Linked DNA regions of Homo sapiens: region 2 is linked to region 1. The links come from fine-mapping of genetic effects on gene expression. Tissue or cell type: skeletal muscle. Region 1 holds a variant in brackets; the other region holds the start of a gene. All regions are shown on one strand. Distances are between the middles of the regions.

Region 1 (8,151 bases):
TAGAATCAGGATAGGTTAACATCTTTCTTTTGCTCATTCCCTTTATAGATAGAAAATCACATAAAGCAACTCTTTTCAACAACTGCTTGTCAATGGTTTGTTTCCACCTTGGGGCAACTACATTCCACTGTGGAAGTTCTTATTGAAGAAACATAGCGCCTATGAGTTGAGAAATGAGTGGTTCTTTCCTTCACCAGCTTTCTCATTTTAAAGGGGGAATAAATTGCACATGTGAGGAAAAGAACAAACTTCTTTAGGACATAAGTTCTTTGTAATTTAAATTTTTTCTCTAGACTTTGGGCTCAAGACTTATACAATAAGACTCTTTTTAATGATGTGGCAGGCTATAAAAGGATTGGAGGCAATTGAGAGAGAAGAGGAGAGGAGGGAAGGGGAGAGGAGGGGAAGGGAGGGGAGAGGAGGGAAGGGAAAGGGAGGGAAAGGGAGGGGAAGGGAGGGGAGGGGAGAGGAGGGGAGAGGAGGTTATTACCAGCGAATACTGCCCCTACACAGAGCCTCCCACGTATGTGGATATATCACATAGCTTTTTCTCACTTATCATGTCTTTATTGTTCTCTTGTGAAGTAGAACAAGACAGACAGGTCTCCCTATCCAAGCCAAACACAAGAGACTTACAGAGCCAAACACAAGAGACTTAAGGTAATTGTCAGCAGCAAATGCTCAGGTTGGTTATTTTTTTCTCTGTATCTTCCCTTATTACCCGCCAACACAGCCCCTACGCAGAGCCTCCCACGTAGGAGAAGACTTTACATATACTTTTAAAATGTTTTCCTCAAGAGAAAGAGAAAACAAGATCCAGGAATATAGCCCACAGAAACCAGCAAAGGACAGAGGAATCACTCTCCACCCATAGCAATCACCAGCTCAGAGAAACTCTGAGTTTGGAGAGTCTTTTGCATTCACCTAATTTCATCCTTGCATTATGTACAGGAGAGGACCAGGGAGTCATGCAGAGAGGTACCAGCCCGGCCAGTCCGGGAGCTTCTAGACAATTGTTCCCCAAAGCAATGCCCTTCCCACCGCCCTGTGCTGGACCCCAGTCTCAAGCCCTTAAGAGACTTCAGGTGCTTATCTCTGCAGGCAGCAAAGTGCAGGAGCAATAGCCACATCCCATCCTAATTCTACACACTGCAGTGTGCGACTTGTTTTTGACAATCCCATTCTTGTCCCAGTGAGAACAATGGAGAAAATAGCATGTAAGGGGATATTGCTAGACCAGCAAACAAAATGCATTTGTCTGTCTGATTTGTGATCCATTTCTACTATTCACCTCTCAAAGAAATGCTGGGAAGAGCTTGGAAGCTAGCAATTAAGCAGTTCAAACTCTTTGGAAAGTTTCTAGTGCCTTAGAATTCCAGGAAGTGCTGAATCATAGAGTCGCAGAATAGGAAAAGATTTGTAAGACAAGAATAAAATGAATATTTATTGAACACCTCCCATATTATTGGATATATTTTGTCTCAACCTCACAGTCACTCTCAGAGGCGGGTGTACTGTGATCTCCTGTTAGAGGAGGAAACTGAGGGTCAGAGTGGTTAATTGGAACTGGTAAGCTAGGATTTGAACTTAGGTCTATTTGGACTGAAGAAACAACTACTCAGAAGTATTATGCTATTACTTTCTTTGTTCTCACTTCCTCTTTCTTACTGGAGGATGCTCAGTTCATAACCTCTATCTGTGAAAGATACTTCCCCCTCTACTATCTTCAGATTATCTTCTTAGAGATAGAAACATTCTACAACCACATTTGTATCTGCCTTTCACAACTATTATAGTAAACAAGTTCTTCCTAGCATCTAACTTAAATCCCCCCAATACACTGAGAGCCACCAGCTCTGCCCTCAGGGAACATGAAACATGGCTAGAACATTCCAGTTAGCAGCAGCTTCCCAGTCTTGGTTCCAAACTGCTTCTGTTAAAAGAATCACCAATTCAAAACACATGCACTGTCATGAACCCTCGCCCCAATCCAGATGCTCCACTCCTTGGGCCCCTTTAAGGGTGAACATGAATATCACTCAGGCTCAGGCCCTGTTATCCAGATGCCATCAAGAGGGATCAAGGCTTTCCTTCTATCTCCATTTCCGAGCTAAGCCTAGATTGGACCTCCTTTTTCAAAGTACATTCTAGGACTACCATTTTATGTGATCAAATAAAGGGCCTATTTATATCTGAGCTGTGTCAGGGATGAGTAAACAAAATTCTTCCACTGGGAATTTGGGCACCTTCTATATTCTATGACTCTTTTTTTGTTTTTTGAAACAGAGTCCTGCTTTGTCACCCAGCTTGGAGTGCAGTGGTGTGATCTTAGCTTACTGCAACCTCCGCCTCCCAGGTTCAAATGATTCTCATGCTTCAGCTGCCCAAGTAGCTTGGATTACAGGAATGTGCCAACACACCCAGCTAATTGTTTTGTATTTTTAGTAGAGATGGGGTTTCACCATGTTGGCCAAGCTGGTCTTGAACTCCTGGCCTCAAGTGATCCGCCTGTCTCAGCCTCCCAATAAGATTACAGGTATGAGCCACACTGCCCAGCCCACCTTCTGTGTTTCTTTACTAACAGAAAAATGTAGCCCTTTGCAAAAGTGCATGCATGCAGCATGATAGAGAATATCTTTCAGTCTTGCTCCTTTAGGGGTATATCTTTATTCTTTATGTATTTAATAGCTGATTTCAATAATAGCTCATGTTCAATGAGTGCGTACTATGTGCTGGGCTTTCCATGTTTTAAGCTTTACATGTTTTAGCTCATTCTTAGCAATTCCAGGAAGTAGATGCTGTCTTTAGCATTTTGGTTTTTTTTTTTTTTTTTGGGAAGCAGGGTCTCACTCTGTCTTCCAGGCTGGAGTGCAGTGGCGCAATCTTGGCTCATTGCAACCTCCATCTCCCAGGTTCAAGCTGCTCACCTCAGCCTCCCAAGTACCTGGGACTGTAGGTGTGTGCCACCATGCCTGCCTAATTTTTGTGCTTTTTTGGTAGAGATGGGGTTTCACCATGTTGGCCAGGCTGGAGCATTTTGATTTTACAATTGAGGCAAAGAAGGGAAGCAAATTGCGTAAGGCTGCCAGGTAATAAGTGACTGAACCTGGCCAATCTAATTCCAGAATACATGCTCCTGAGCACTCTGTTAGTTAGTATTCATTTTGGCTGTGATAGCAGAACCCAAAACAACAGTGGTTTAAATTAAATGGAAGTTTATTTCTCTTAGGTAGAAGTCCAGAGGTTAGTCCAAACTAGATAGTCCAAAACTAGACTAGAAGCTCAACTCCACACAGTGCTCAGGGCTCCAGGCTCCTTCTCTATTCCAGTACTCCTAATGTGTAGTTTCATCCCCAACATCCAAAATAGATGCTAGAACTTCAGCCATCTCATCAGTATTCCAAGCAGCAGGATGAAAGAAGAGACAGGATAGAAAAGGGATGAAACACATGCCAGTTGTTTACTATGGACTGTTCCTGGATGCAGCCATGTGACATTTCTGCTTACATCCCACTGATCATAGTAGCAAGAGGGCTGGGGGTAGTTGTTATTCTAGGTGGCTTTGTGACTGGTTATAAAGTAGAGGATTTTATTACTGAAAGAAGGAGAGGAGTAATCAGAGGCTAGATGGGTATATGGAGGGGTAGAGGGAGATGTAGCTGGAGAAAGGGGCAGGGCCTGGGTGATGAGAACTTACCAAGACCCTACATTTCCCCACTCTAATCTTTGGGTTCATTTTCCATTCCAGCAGGTACCAAGGGAAGGCAGGGCCATCCCTTGAAAACCATCAGTTTTGACTGCTGCCTGACCCCCTGAAGCTCTGTAATCAGCACTCCTAGAACACAACTCAGGTGTCCACCTTGGTGGTAAACTTTAGGCAGGTTCCAGCCTGGGACCATCAGTTCATTGGGTTCAAATGGAGGTGGGTGGCTTCTGATTGGTGTCTCCAGAAAGCCCCAAAAGGGAAGGTGGTGTGGGGGAGGAGGACACTGTGATGGGCCACAGCCTCAGAGTGGCTTTTGCCTCTGAACCTCCAGAGCGAGCCTGGAAACCAGCCACGAGAGAGTAACTTCATGGTTTCCAAAGCTCCTTTGCATATGCTATTTCCCTTGAAACATACAAGATTGTGATAGGGCTTGCTCTGCTCCCTGTTTTGCCAGTGAGGAAAAAGGAGTCAGAATCCTCCTGTAATTTTCAGTAGGATAAGGTGAGGTCTCAGAATCTGTCTTTTCACAGGGGTGCCAGGAGATTCTTATGTTTAAAAAACTTTGGGAAACACCAAGCTCAGGGTGGCAAGTGATATAGGAGGGCCACATCTTAGGGGACAGATAAATCACAAGACTGTAGACTCTGTGATGAATAAATGCCCTAATTTATTTTTGTTCTGTTTTGTTTTGTTTTGCGACAGTCTCACACTGTCGCCCAGGCTGGAGTGCAATGGCGTGATCTCGGCTCACTGCAACCTCTGCCTCCTGGGTTCGAACAATTCTCCTGTCTCAGCCTCCCGAGTAGCTGGGATTACAGGCACCCACCACCATGCCCAGCTAATTTTTATATTTTTTAGTAGAGACGGAGTTTCACCGTGTTGGCCAGGCTGGTCTCGAACTCCTGACTTCGTGATCTGCCCGCCTCGGCCTCCCAAACTGCTGGGATTACAAGTGTGAGCCACCATGCCCAGCCAAAATGCTCTAATTTATAACCAGTCACAAAGCCATCTAGAATAACAGCTAACCCAGCCCTCTTGCTACTATGATCAGTGGGATGTAAGCAGAAATGCCACATGGCTGCATCCAGGAACAGTCCACAGTAAACAACAGGGACGTGTTTCATCCCTTTTCTATCCTGTCCCTTTGAGTTATACCTGTCGTCGTCACTGCTCTGTCTCTGTACCTGGCACACTGTAGATACTCAATACATATTTGTTGAAAGGATGAATAAAGAC[A/C]AGCTTAGATATTCAGACTTTTAGATCCTACTTCCTCTAGTGCCATGGAAGAATCCTAGAAGGAGCTCACATTTTATTATGCTTGCCACCGCAAGATGAGAGATAAGTACTACTAAAACTCATTTTACAGATGTTAAACACTGGGGTTAAATGACTTGCCCAGGGTCACACAAACCCTAAGTGGTAGAACCAGGATTTAAACTCATGTTCTTCAACATGATGCTCTTTTGTTTCTTTAATATGGATCAACTATTTATTCCATTGCAATAGATTTACCATAGCTCAAATCATTCCCTGGGAAACAGAAAGTCTATTCTATAGCTTTTTCATATAACAAGTAACCTAATACACAGATGTGAGCCCTGTCACTTGACACCGCCCATGTTATAGAAAAGTTCCACTCTGCCTCACAGACTATTTGCTCGCATTGAGGTGCCAAACTGGATTGGCGGAGAGGAGCGTATATTGAACTTGAATGTTTACTTTACTCGTGAGCACACACATCTGTTTTTGTTTATGGGGATGGCGGCAATCAGAGCGAGCTCTCCTCAGCAGACATTCTTGACAGTGGATTTCTCTCCCAGTCTGAGAAGTTTTATTATCTCTGAGGCTGGCAAGCAGGCTGTCAGTTTAGACCGTGCCCTTTTGAACCCAGAGGCTTCTGGGCTCTTCTGTTCTTTCCAAAGAGGCATTATTACTTCAGGGCTGAACTGAATCTTAAGGAGATGTGAGATTTTGTGGTGGAGTAACTACATCCACGGGACCTCACATAGACCTGGAAGAGTGAAACAGTTCTAAAAGCCCCTCTCTTATCCATTGACAAATTCAAAGTACAAGAGCTGAGCCCTTATCTGTTCTACTTTCTTAGGGGCCCTCATTCCTCTGCCCTCTTTTGCATCCATTGCCCCAGCTCTTGCACGTGCGGCAGAGGGGAGGTTGCCCGCATGGGGAATAGTTTCTGTTTCCTTCCTTTGTTGACATACCTTTAGGGAAGGCATAATGCACACAGATTGCACTGGCACGTGTTGTCTCGTAACGTGTTTGGTATTAGTAGCCTTCAGGTGGTTTCTGGCTAGTTCTTCCTCTGTCTTAGATGCAGACTGGCCCCTGCACTGTCTTAACACAGAGGCAGGTTTGGATAGTTGGTGGTGGGTTGCATGAGGACTTGGCTTTTTCACTCAGCTACTTTCCTTGAAAGAAGAGTTAAAAGCAGCACTTTATGTTCCTTGGATACAAGCAACTATGACTGGGTTTTTCCATCTGTCCTGTCACCCCAAGTGATGAGACCAGTAGTCAATTCATTGGCTGGCAGAAGGTACATCCTGTGGCACTTTATGTAAGTGAAGCTTTTTCAAAGAGCAGGATATGAAAAATTAGTGGCTATGGGAGGCGTGAATACAGAGGGCCTTGGTAGTAAGTGTGTCCATGAAGTGCTGTTCAGTCTGACTTTGTATTTATAGTCTAGCTCAATAAAAATGATGTGATTTTTTTTCTTGGTTACAAAGGAAATAGGATGGCTCATAGGTCAATAATTCCATATCTGATTTCTTAGACCTGTGACATTTATATCACACTTCCAACAGTTAAAACTTTTGTCTTCTGAAATATCTGCTCATTCCACTGGGAAAAGCATTTTGGAATACACATAACCTTCTGTGACCCCAGCCATTCGTTTCCCTTAACCTCCCCACACCCTGCATGCCATACTTACTTATTTAATTTTTTTTTTTCTTTGAGCCAGAGTTTCACTCTTGTTGCCCAGGCTGGAGTACAACGGTATGATCTCGGCTCACTGCAACCTCCACCTCCTGGGTTCAAGCGACTGTCCTGCCTCTCAGCCTCCCAAGTAGCCAAGATTACAGGCACCCACCACCATGCCCGGCTATTTATTTATTTTTGTCTTTTTAGTAGACACGGGGTTTCACCATGTTGGCCAGGCTGGTCTCGAACTCCTGACCTCAGGTGATCCACCCGCCTTGGCCTCCCAAAGTGCTGGGATTACAGGCGTGAGCCACCGGACCCAGACTATTTGTTTAATTTTACAACCAGCAACAAGCCTAGCATGCCACACTTAAGTGTTCCCAAATTATAACTCTTCCAAGTAACGGGAACTAGAGGTTTCTTCCTGTGGTGCTGACAGAGGTGACAGTGGGTAAGCAACAGGTGGTTAAAGGTTTGAGCAGGAAGGGGCCCTGTACCCACTCCAGTGTCTTTAAGGTAGATATAAGGCATGTGGAAGTGTGAGAACCGGACACTGCCTTCAGTGCTGTGGGAACCCAGGTGAAGTTTCCCCTTTATAAAGTTTTCCCTATGCCTCCCTTAGAGGGATGAGGCAGCAGAACAGAGCTCCCTGCCTTTACACAGCCATGCAGGGTCCAGGATCCCCACCATCTAAGAGAGACAAAGAAAACTGGGAAAGAGATCTGTTATTGAGCTTCCTGCCAATTTTGTCCTGTGGGACACTCAAACTGGATTTAATTTGATATAGCAAAATAAAGAAATACTCACCATACACTCTATGAGTGTTGTGTAAAAATTCTTAACTGTTAACAATATATAAAAAATCAATCTCAATTTGCAAGGATATTAATATTTAAATCAGAAAATTTTCTCCATTAGATTAACACATATATGCCTGGGTACAGTGGCTCACGCCTGTAATCCCAGCACTTTGGGAGGCCGAGGCAGGCCGATCATTTAAGGTCAGGAGTTCGAGATCAGCCTGGCCAACATGGCGAAATCCTGTCTCTACTAAAAATACAAAAATTAGATGGAGGTTGCAGTGAGCCGAGATCTTGCCACTGCACTCCAGCCCCAGCAACAGAGTGAGACTTCATCTCAAAAAAAAAAAAATATATATATATATATATAATATTTCAGTCTCAGGGGCAACAAAGATATTTTTAAAAGCTCACAGCCAATGATGGTGAGTGAGGGTATGGAGAAATGGTCATGCTTACACACTTTCATTAGATACATAAATTGGTACAATCCTTCTGGCACATAATTTGATAAATAATAACAGCCTTAAATTTCGACCTAGTAATTCTTTTTCCACCAGTCTATTATTTAGTGGAAGTTGTTATTATTATGAAATAATCAGAAACTTGGATAAAAATTTATAAACAAAGCTGTTTATGGGAGCATTATTTATAGTTCTAATAAATGTGATGTTAAAAGTATGATTTGAATAATGAAAAATGGTTAAA
Region 2 (8,194 bases), 120 kb after region 1:
CTTTTCACAGATGTTAAGAATAACAGTCTCAATAAATCATTTTGGGACAACTGGATATCCACATGCAGAATGAAATTAGACCCTCATCCTTTACCATATAAAAAAATTTAACACGAAAAGGATTCAAGATTTAAATGTAAGACCTGAAACTGTAAAACTACTAGAAGAAAACATAAGGGGAAAGTTGCACGACATTGGTCTGGGCAATGACTTTTTTTGGATATAAACCCCAAAGCACTGGTAACAAAACCAAAAATAAATAAATGGGATTACATCACACTAAGAAGTTTGTAGAATCTGGATTTTAAATTATTTTTTAAAAATTATTTTAAAAGACTACGAAGCTTTTGCACAGCCAACGAAACCATCAATAGAGTGAAGAGAACCTATGGAATGGGAGACTATATTTGGAAACCATATATGTGATGAAGGGAACCTCTGTACACTGTTGGTGGGAATGTAAATTAGTACAGCTATTATAGAAAATAGTACAGAGGTTCCACAAAAAATTAAAAATAGAACTACTATATGATCCAGCAATCCCACTTCTGGGTATATATCCAAAGGATGTAAAATTAGTACATTCAAGAGACATCTGTACTTGAAAGTTCACTGCAACATTATTCACAATAGCCAAGATACGGAATCAAAAGTGTCCATCAATGGATGAATGGATTAAAAAAAGTGGTATATATACACAATGGAATACTATTTAGCCTTAAAAAAGAATGAAATCCTGTCATTTGTGACAACATAAATGAACTGGAAGACATTGTGTTAAATGAAATAAGCCAGTCAAACAGAGACAGATACTGAATGATCTCACTTATATATGGAGGATAAAAAAGTACAACTCATAGAAATATTGAGTAGAATGGTGGTTAGCAGGGGCTTGGGGTTAAGAGGATTGGGGAGATGCGGTTAAAGGATACAAAATTTCAGTTAGGCAGGAGGAATAAGTTCAAGAGATCTCCTACATGTCATGGTGACTGCTGTTAATAACAATATATTGTATTGAAAATTGCTAAGAGAGGCGATTTTAAGTGTGCTCACCACAAAAAAAAGTAAGTACGTGAGGCATTGCTTATGTTAAATAGCTTGGTTTGGCCATTCCACAATGTATTCATATATCAAAACATCATGTTGTACATCATAAAAATACAATTTTTACCTGTCAATTTAAATAAAGAAATAAGATTTTTGAAAAAGGACAAAAGGCAATAGACTACCTTTAAACTTCATGAGGTTTTGATGAACAAACTTTTCTCTAGAGTTCAAAGAAGTACTAGAATACAGATACAGCCAGAACAGCTGCAGAGAAGTTGAGACAGGAACAGGAGGAGGTTAAAGAGTGACTCATGAGGCTTTGATCATAATCTATCAATAAATGAGATGACTATTGTTTTCTTTGATCTAGTTGTCAGTAAACAGCTCTCATTCAAGAACCATTAGGCACTACAAAGGTGAAGGGCTATCCCTGTTTCAGGACAGCTCAAACAAGTTGCTTTCATAGGTGTGTTTACTTGTTGCTTTGTTCTTTATTTTTCAGCTTGATGATAAGGGCTATGGGGATAAGAGTATTTGCTTCTTTCTGCTAGTAATCCTGGGACAGTCCCTTTCCAGATACTTCTCCATCTTGCCCTGGTATAAAAATCGAAGGGTGAAAACCTTGGCTTACTGGTTTTTATTCAGTCAATTTTATATCCTAAATTATTTAGAGAGATAGTAGGAACGAAATAAAACTGACTGGAAGCAAGCACCTAGTTTCTGGCCATTAACATATAAAACTAAATTGAATTAAGCCCCTTACTCTACCAATTACTATATTTTACTTTGTCTTAGAAGGCAGAAGAAATGTTGATAATTAGACAAAACAATAACTGGAATTTCATACAAGTAAAAAATAGTTTTCCCATCTCCATGCAATTTTTATTAATAGTAGTAACACACTTAACAAAAACTCTAATTGCTAAGGCTATACCTTACATAAGACAGAATGTTCAACAGACTTACTTGTGAATATCTAAGTCCCATAATTTACTTTGCTCTTTCCTTAAATGCAATTTCAACCCATGGTTCCCATTGTCTTCCCCATCCTCTTTTGGCTTTTTAAAAGACAGGGATTCCCTGGATCCTGGATCTAGTACCTAATCCTCTTTTTTAAAACAAAAACAAAAACAAAACACTGAGTTTCTCTGTTGTCCAGTCTTGTCTCAAATTCCCGGGCGCAAGTGATCCTCCTGCCTCTGCCTCCCGAGTAGCTGGGATTACAGGTGCGCACTGCTGTGCCAGTTCTGGTACCTAATCCCTAGTTGGGTACTTAATCCTTACATCACAAGTCATTTGCAGAAAATATTTTCATTTCTATAATCATATTTGATGCCAAAGTTATGTTTCTAGGCTATCTCCTCTAGCCATCTTTTAGATCCAGAATGTAAAATAAATTTAAACAATGTGGTTTTGGGGTACGGGAACGAATGACAAATTGCAAAATAAAAACTGTTTTCAACTGTGAAATTTTAGAAGCCGGGCGCGGTGGCTCACGCCTGTAATCCCAGCACTTTGGGAGGCCGAGGCTAGTGGATCGCCCAAGGTCAGGAATTCGAGACCAGCTTGATCAACATGTTGGAACCCCGTTTCTACTAAATATAAAAAATTAGCCAGGCATGGTGGCGCATGCCTGTAATCCCAGCTACTCAGGAGGCTGAGGCAGGAGAATCGCTTGAACCCGGGAGGTGGAGGTTGCAGTGAGCCGAGATCGCGCCACTGCACTGTAGCTTGGGTGACAGAGTGAGACCCTGTCTCACAAAAAAAAAAAAAAAAAAAAAAAAAATTAGATTTCCTATTGTTCCCTTTAATCGCAATAAGCCTGACTGACCTATCTCACAGGGACCTCTAGAACACTAACTCAGTAGAGGAGGGGTGCAGGATTGATTTTAACAGAGTAAAAGAGAACCTAAGATGTGTTAACACAATTGGGTGATGAGAGGTCACGGTACATGAATAAAGACTGTAATTCTTGTTTTACTCCATTTGTCAGTCTCAGCAGTGAAAGGTGATTTCCAGGCGACTCTATAAACCAGTATCACCGGACCTACCTCCTCACAAACTGTAGAAAAGCGGTTGAGGAACTGTACAGTGTGCACCACAAATTGGTTTAGAAAAGCCACCGTTCTTTTCTGTTGAATAGCTGGCACCTGTGTTACGTAAAAACAAACATGGTTCATACAGGAGGAACGTACACAGTGCAAATCTTTTCATATTTGGACATAATCACGAGGCACTTTGCTGTGTGATATGAATTTCTTGAAGGACTGGGAATAGTCATTAACTTGTTTCCTAAGCTGTGGGTGGGGTGTCCGAAGATGACAGAGGTGCACAAAAGTTTGAGAACAGGCTCTAGACTCACTGGTACGAATTTTGGCAGGCAAAAAGCACCACACATAAACACACACAAAATCTTGGGGGCTGAATAAGAGGTAGGGCTAGCTATCGCAACCGGCGTGTGTCGCCGGCGGCAGAGAGACAAGCGAGATGGGAAGCGACAGTTGGGAGATGCACACCGTCTCCTTAATCAGCTCAGGAGGGACCCCATTTCAAGGTGGACTGTGGGGCTCTCCCTCCTGAGGCCCCACAGGCCTGTCACAAGGGCCCGAGGCCGTGACAGGGTGGGGACTCGGAAGGTGGGTGTCTCCCCGGAAAGCTGCGTCTTCCCCATCCTCCTCCCGGCTCGTCGGGAGTCTAGCACCGTCTTTTACAAACCTTGGTCAGGTCTATGCCTGACCCCATGAGAGGAAGCCCGTCCTCATCCATCTCCTCAGCGGGCGGTGGACCCCGAGTTCACCCACAAACCCCTCCCAGATGGGGCCCGCCCAACCCGGTAATCACGTCTCAACTTTCCCCCCAAGTGCCCGCCTCCGGGGCCCTTCCCGCCGGAAGAAAGCTTCTCCGCTCACTAATCACTCGGCGGCTTCCGGAGAGCCCGCCTCCTCGCTCGGCATTCTGGGATTGGTAGTTTTAGTCCAGATTGTGACGTCAATTTCGGGGTGGCGCGCGGTGGTGCAAGGATGCAGTTAGAGCACTGAAATCTTAGAAAGGAGGCAACAAAACAAAACAAAAAAACAAAGCCAGAAGTTGCGTCCTTTTGAGGTTATCCCTACTTAGTCCTGTCTGTTATATAATAACTCCGTCATTCCTTGAGCAACAATTTTTTTTTTGTTGTTGTTAATCCTAAGTGCCATATACTCTGCTAGGCTTTTACTGGGAAAACAAAGATTGAGTTTGATTGCTGCACGGGAGAGGTTTATGCCCTGAAGAATGAGAAATAAGACCTACTTCCAAAGCGTGTGTGTGTGTATACACACAAGTTCTCGCTATTTCCCCAGGCTGGTCTCGAACTCCTGGCCTCAAGCGATTCTCCTGCCTCAGCCTCACACGATTCTCCTGCCTCAGCCTCACAGAGTGCTGGGATTACAGGCGTGAGCCAACGCGCCTGGTCTTCCAAAGGTTTTTAAAACATGAAATAAAATGTCAACTACTAGATGTGAGGCACAAACCTACGGAAGTGACTGCCACTTACAGGGAGCATCAAAAAGATGAAGACCAAGACTGCAGTGGGCAGTTTTGTTTTAAAGATGGGGGGTCTCGCTTTGTTACCCAGTCTGGCGTGCAGTGAGGATCATAGCTCACCTTAGTCTCAAACCCTTTGGCTCAAATGATCCTCATGCCTTGGCCTCCCTAAGTGCTGGGATTATAGGTGTGAGCCACTGGCACCTGGCCTGTTGGTTTGGTTGAAGCAAATAATCCCATAAATGGAGAATGGTAGGAAATGAGGTAAGAGTGTTACTGGTGGAGGGTGTCCAGGTTCTTTTGAACAAAGAATTGGACAAAACGCACAAATCAAGGAGAGAATGAACCAACAAAAGCAAAGATTCATTGAAAACCAAAGTACGCTCCACAGTGTACTGGATACAGAATCTTCTTAGGTCCAAATACCCACTAGAGATTTCCCATTGGACACTGGTGTTCTCCTCATGCAAATGAAGTGGTGGCCCACAATCAGTCTGATTGGTTATGGAAAGCAACCAATCAGAGGCTGAAGTAAAATGACAAAGGTCATACTCCTATACAAACATCTGATTGGTTGTGGAAAGCAACCAATCATTGGCTAAAGTGATGTTACTTAGTTGCACTTCTATGCAAAGGAAGATTTGGCCCGCAATCAGTCTGATTGGTTGAGGTACTTTCAATTTCCATCTGCCTGTCAGAAAAGGTGGGGATTTGCAAAGGGAGTAGCCGCTGGTCCTTTTGTTACTTAGGTGTGGAAATTTGGGGTTTACCTTTTGATTTAGTTCTAGGAAGTCAGCGTGAATCGGCGTTAGGTTCCCTGCCTCCAGACCCTATTCTGCCTCAGGAGACGTAGCCAGAAAATTTTCGTTTAAGGGCCTTTTATGCCAGATTTGATACTATAGTCCATGTTTATCTAATGTGATTCATAGGCCATCTGTAGCAATTATTTGGGTGTGGGTGGTGTTTCTTAAAGTTGCACGTTGCCCAGCTTAACCTTAGCGTGATCACCTTCTCCTGATTGAACTTTCTTAATTTTTCTTTCAGGAAGGCAGATCTTCTCTGGTTTTCTTTGTATCACTATGGTCATTTCCTTTCAGTTTCTTTTGCTGGTTGCTTCTTATGTCCCCAATCTCTAGAGTTTCTCACATTTATATATCTAACCCAGACCTTACATTGGAAGCCAGTATAGCTGAAGCAGAGTGAGCAAGGTGGGGAACTGAAGGACATGATGGCTAAAAGTTATGTGGAGACCTGATCATGCAGAGCTTTATGGGACATCATAAGGACTTTGGCTTTCACTCTGGGTATGATGGGAAGTCATGGAAAGATCTAGAGCAGAGAAATGATGGGAGCTACAGAAGAGCTTTTAAGCAGGGGGTGGCATGATCAGAATTGCATTTCGGGACATTCTGTTTGGTACAAGGTAATGAATGTGACTTGAGGGTAGGTGGCTGAACCTGGAAATGTTGCATAGGTCTAACAGTCACTCTTTACTCCATCCTCCTTTACATCTAGTCATTCATCAAATCTTACCTCTTCTACTTCCTAAGTAGTTCTTGAATCAGTCTGTAACTCTCCATCCTTACTGCCATATCTCAAGTTCTGTACAACACACTTTTGTGCCTGGGTTACTGCAATAGCCTCTTCCTGCCTCCATTTTGTGTCTCTCCAAGCTACTCCACACATTGTAGCCATAGTGATTTTTAAAAAGACAAATCTGATTATATTACTCAGGATATAATTTTGTTCCCCATCTCCCTCAGATACTATGCTCACAGGTCCTCTCTGTGGCTCTTGGCCACTTCTTTAACCTTACCTCTCACTGTTATAACTTTCTCCTTAGCCCCAAATAACTTCTTTCAATTCCTGGAATTGCTTGCTGTGTGTGGGTCTTTCAAGATGTTGTCTTCCCTCTGCCTGGAACAATCTCCCCTGCTTCCCAACAACCCCTGCCTGGCTAACTCCTACTCATTCTTCACATATCTTCTCTCCTTTATCCTTGGTTTTCAAGTTTGAATATAATGTGCGTGGGGTATGGGTATGGTTTTCTTTGTATTTATCCTGCTTGTAGTTTGCTGAGCTGCTCAGATCTGTGGGTTGGTGTTCTAAATCAAATTTGGAAGAAAGATTTTTGGCCATTAATTCTTCAAAAAATGTTTTTGTCATTTTTCTCTTTTTCTGGGACTTCAAAAATACTTGTATGTTAGACTGCTTGATTTTGCCCATAGATCACGGTGCTCTGCTCATTTCCCCCCAATCATTTTCTTTTCTCCCTGTGTTTCAGTGTGGATAATTCTTACAAACCTATCTTCAAGTATTTTCTAGTTTCCAATTTAACTATTTTCTAGTTTCCAATTTAGTTCCAGAACTCATCTAATAAGTTGATTTCAGATGTATTTTTTTCTAAAAATCTGTTTTTTAGAGTTTGTTTTTCTCTTGAAATTCCCTTCATTCATCTTTTCCTCTATATTAAAAAAACCAAATTTATAAGTTTTTAAAAAGTCCTTATCTAATAATGCCAATTTCTGGTTCATCTATGTGCCTGGTTCTATTGACAACTTTTTCCTAATTATGGGTTATGTTTCCTGCTTTTTAGCATGTCTTATAATTTTTAATTTTATTATGGACATTGTGAAAAAAAGAACAAAGTTCAGTGAGAAATGGAACATTCAGATTCATTCACAATTTGAATTGAGCTGATGCTGGGCTGCAGCTTTAGATTAAGTTTACCTGCAGTTAATTCAATTCAACCTCCTGCAAAGGACTGAGCTCTTGGATCTTGTCTGTGTTAGAGAGGGATGGGCCATAGTTTCAGATCATTTGGTTCACCTTCGGATTCAGCTTCAGCAGGGCTCAGGAATCCAAGCACCATAAGAATGTGCAAGATTTAGTGAATTCTACTTACCGAAAACATTTCCTCCATTACTGCTTTCTTAGCAATCTTAGGGGTAGGGTGTAGGCCCAAGTGATTTATTTTCGTGATTGAGGTCCTTCCAGACCCAAGTCTGTCTCACCAGCTTGTAGCAAAGTCTTAGCCACTTTCTCCTTAACTCTGCAAAGTCTCCTAGAGTGTTGCAGGCTTGTTCTTCCATCTACTTGTATCCAGACCACGCCCTTCTCCCTGGGCATGGCAATGCCACAGCTCTCTGCTCAACTATGTTCCTCCAAACATAGGCATGACTATAGAATTTATTTCATTAAGGTCTTACATACATGGCTTTTCAACAGCCCCATAAAAAGTATGATTTTTATCTGGTTATTTCTTATTACCACTAAATAAAAGGCTTTCATGCATCTTTCTGTATTCGAACTAGTAGCAGAAGTCTTAACATTCCATCCTTAGAGCTTTCCCAAAGCCACACAGATTAGATTAACTGTTCTTACATGCTTCCATAGCATTCTCTGCTTAACTCTATCTTAGCACATATAATTGCCTGTTTGCTTGAAAGCCTACTATATTACCAATTTAGGGCAGAGTCTCTGTTAGTTCACCATTAAGGTCCTAGCCCAATGTTTGTCCTATAGTAAACACTAAGTATCTTCTGAGTGACATTTGGGCTTAATGAATCTTGTACTTCCACATCTTACTTGATATTTCATTAACCTTTGATTTAGGTGGGACTCA

What was found. PIP is the estimated chance that this variant, and not a neighbour inherited with it, causes the effect.
Region 2: WASHC3 starts here. The variant in region 1 is the best candidate, but not a certain one, in a credible set for the expression of WASHC3 in skeletal muscle (GTEx, PIP 0.89).

Annotation. Positions count from the first base shown.
Region 1 is chr12:101,940,133-101,948,283 of GRCh38, forward strand. No RefSeq gene overlaps it. Among named protein-coding and RNA genes, the nearest start is that of DRAM1-AS1, 20 kb to the right of the region's middle. The variant A/C (reference allele first, on the strand shown) is at 4,943.
Region 2 is chr12:102,058,150-102,066,343 of GRCh38, forward strand. It overlaps WASHC3 (WASH complex subunit 3), which reads right to left and starts at 3,842. Exons shown (of 7, transcript NM_016053.4): 1 at 3,763-3,842; 2 at 3,099-3,197. The coding sequence starts at 3,813. RefSeq lists enhancers at 3,501-3,550, 3,561-3,760.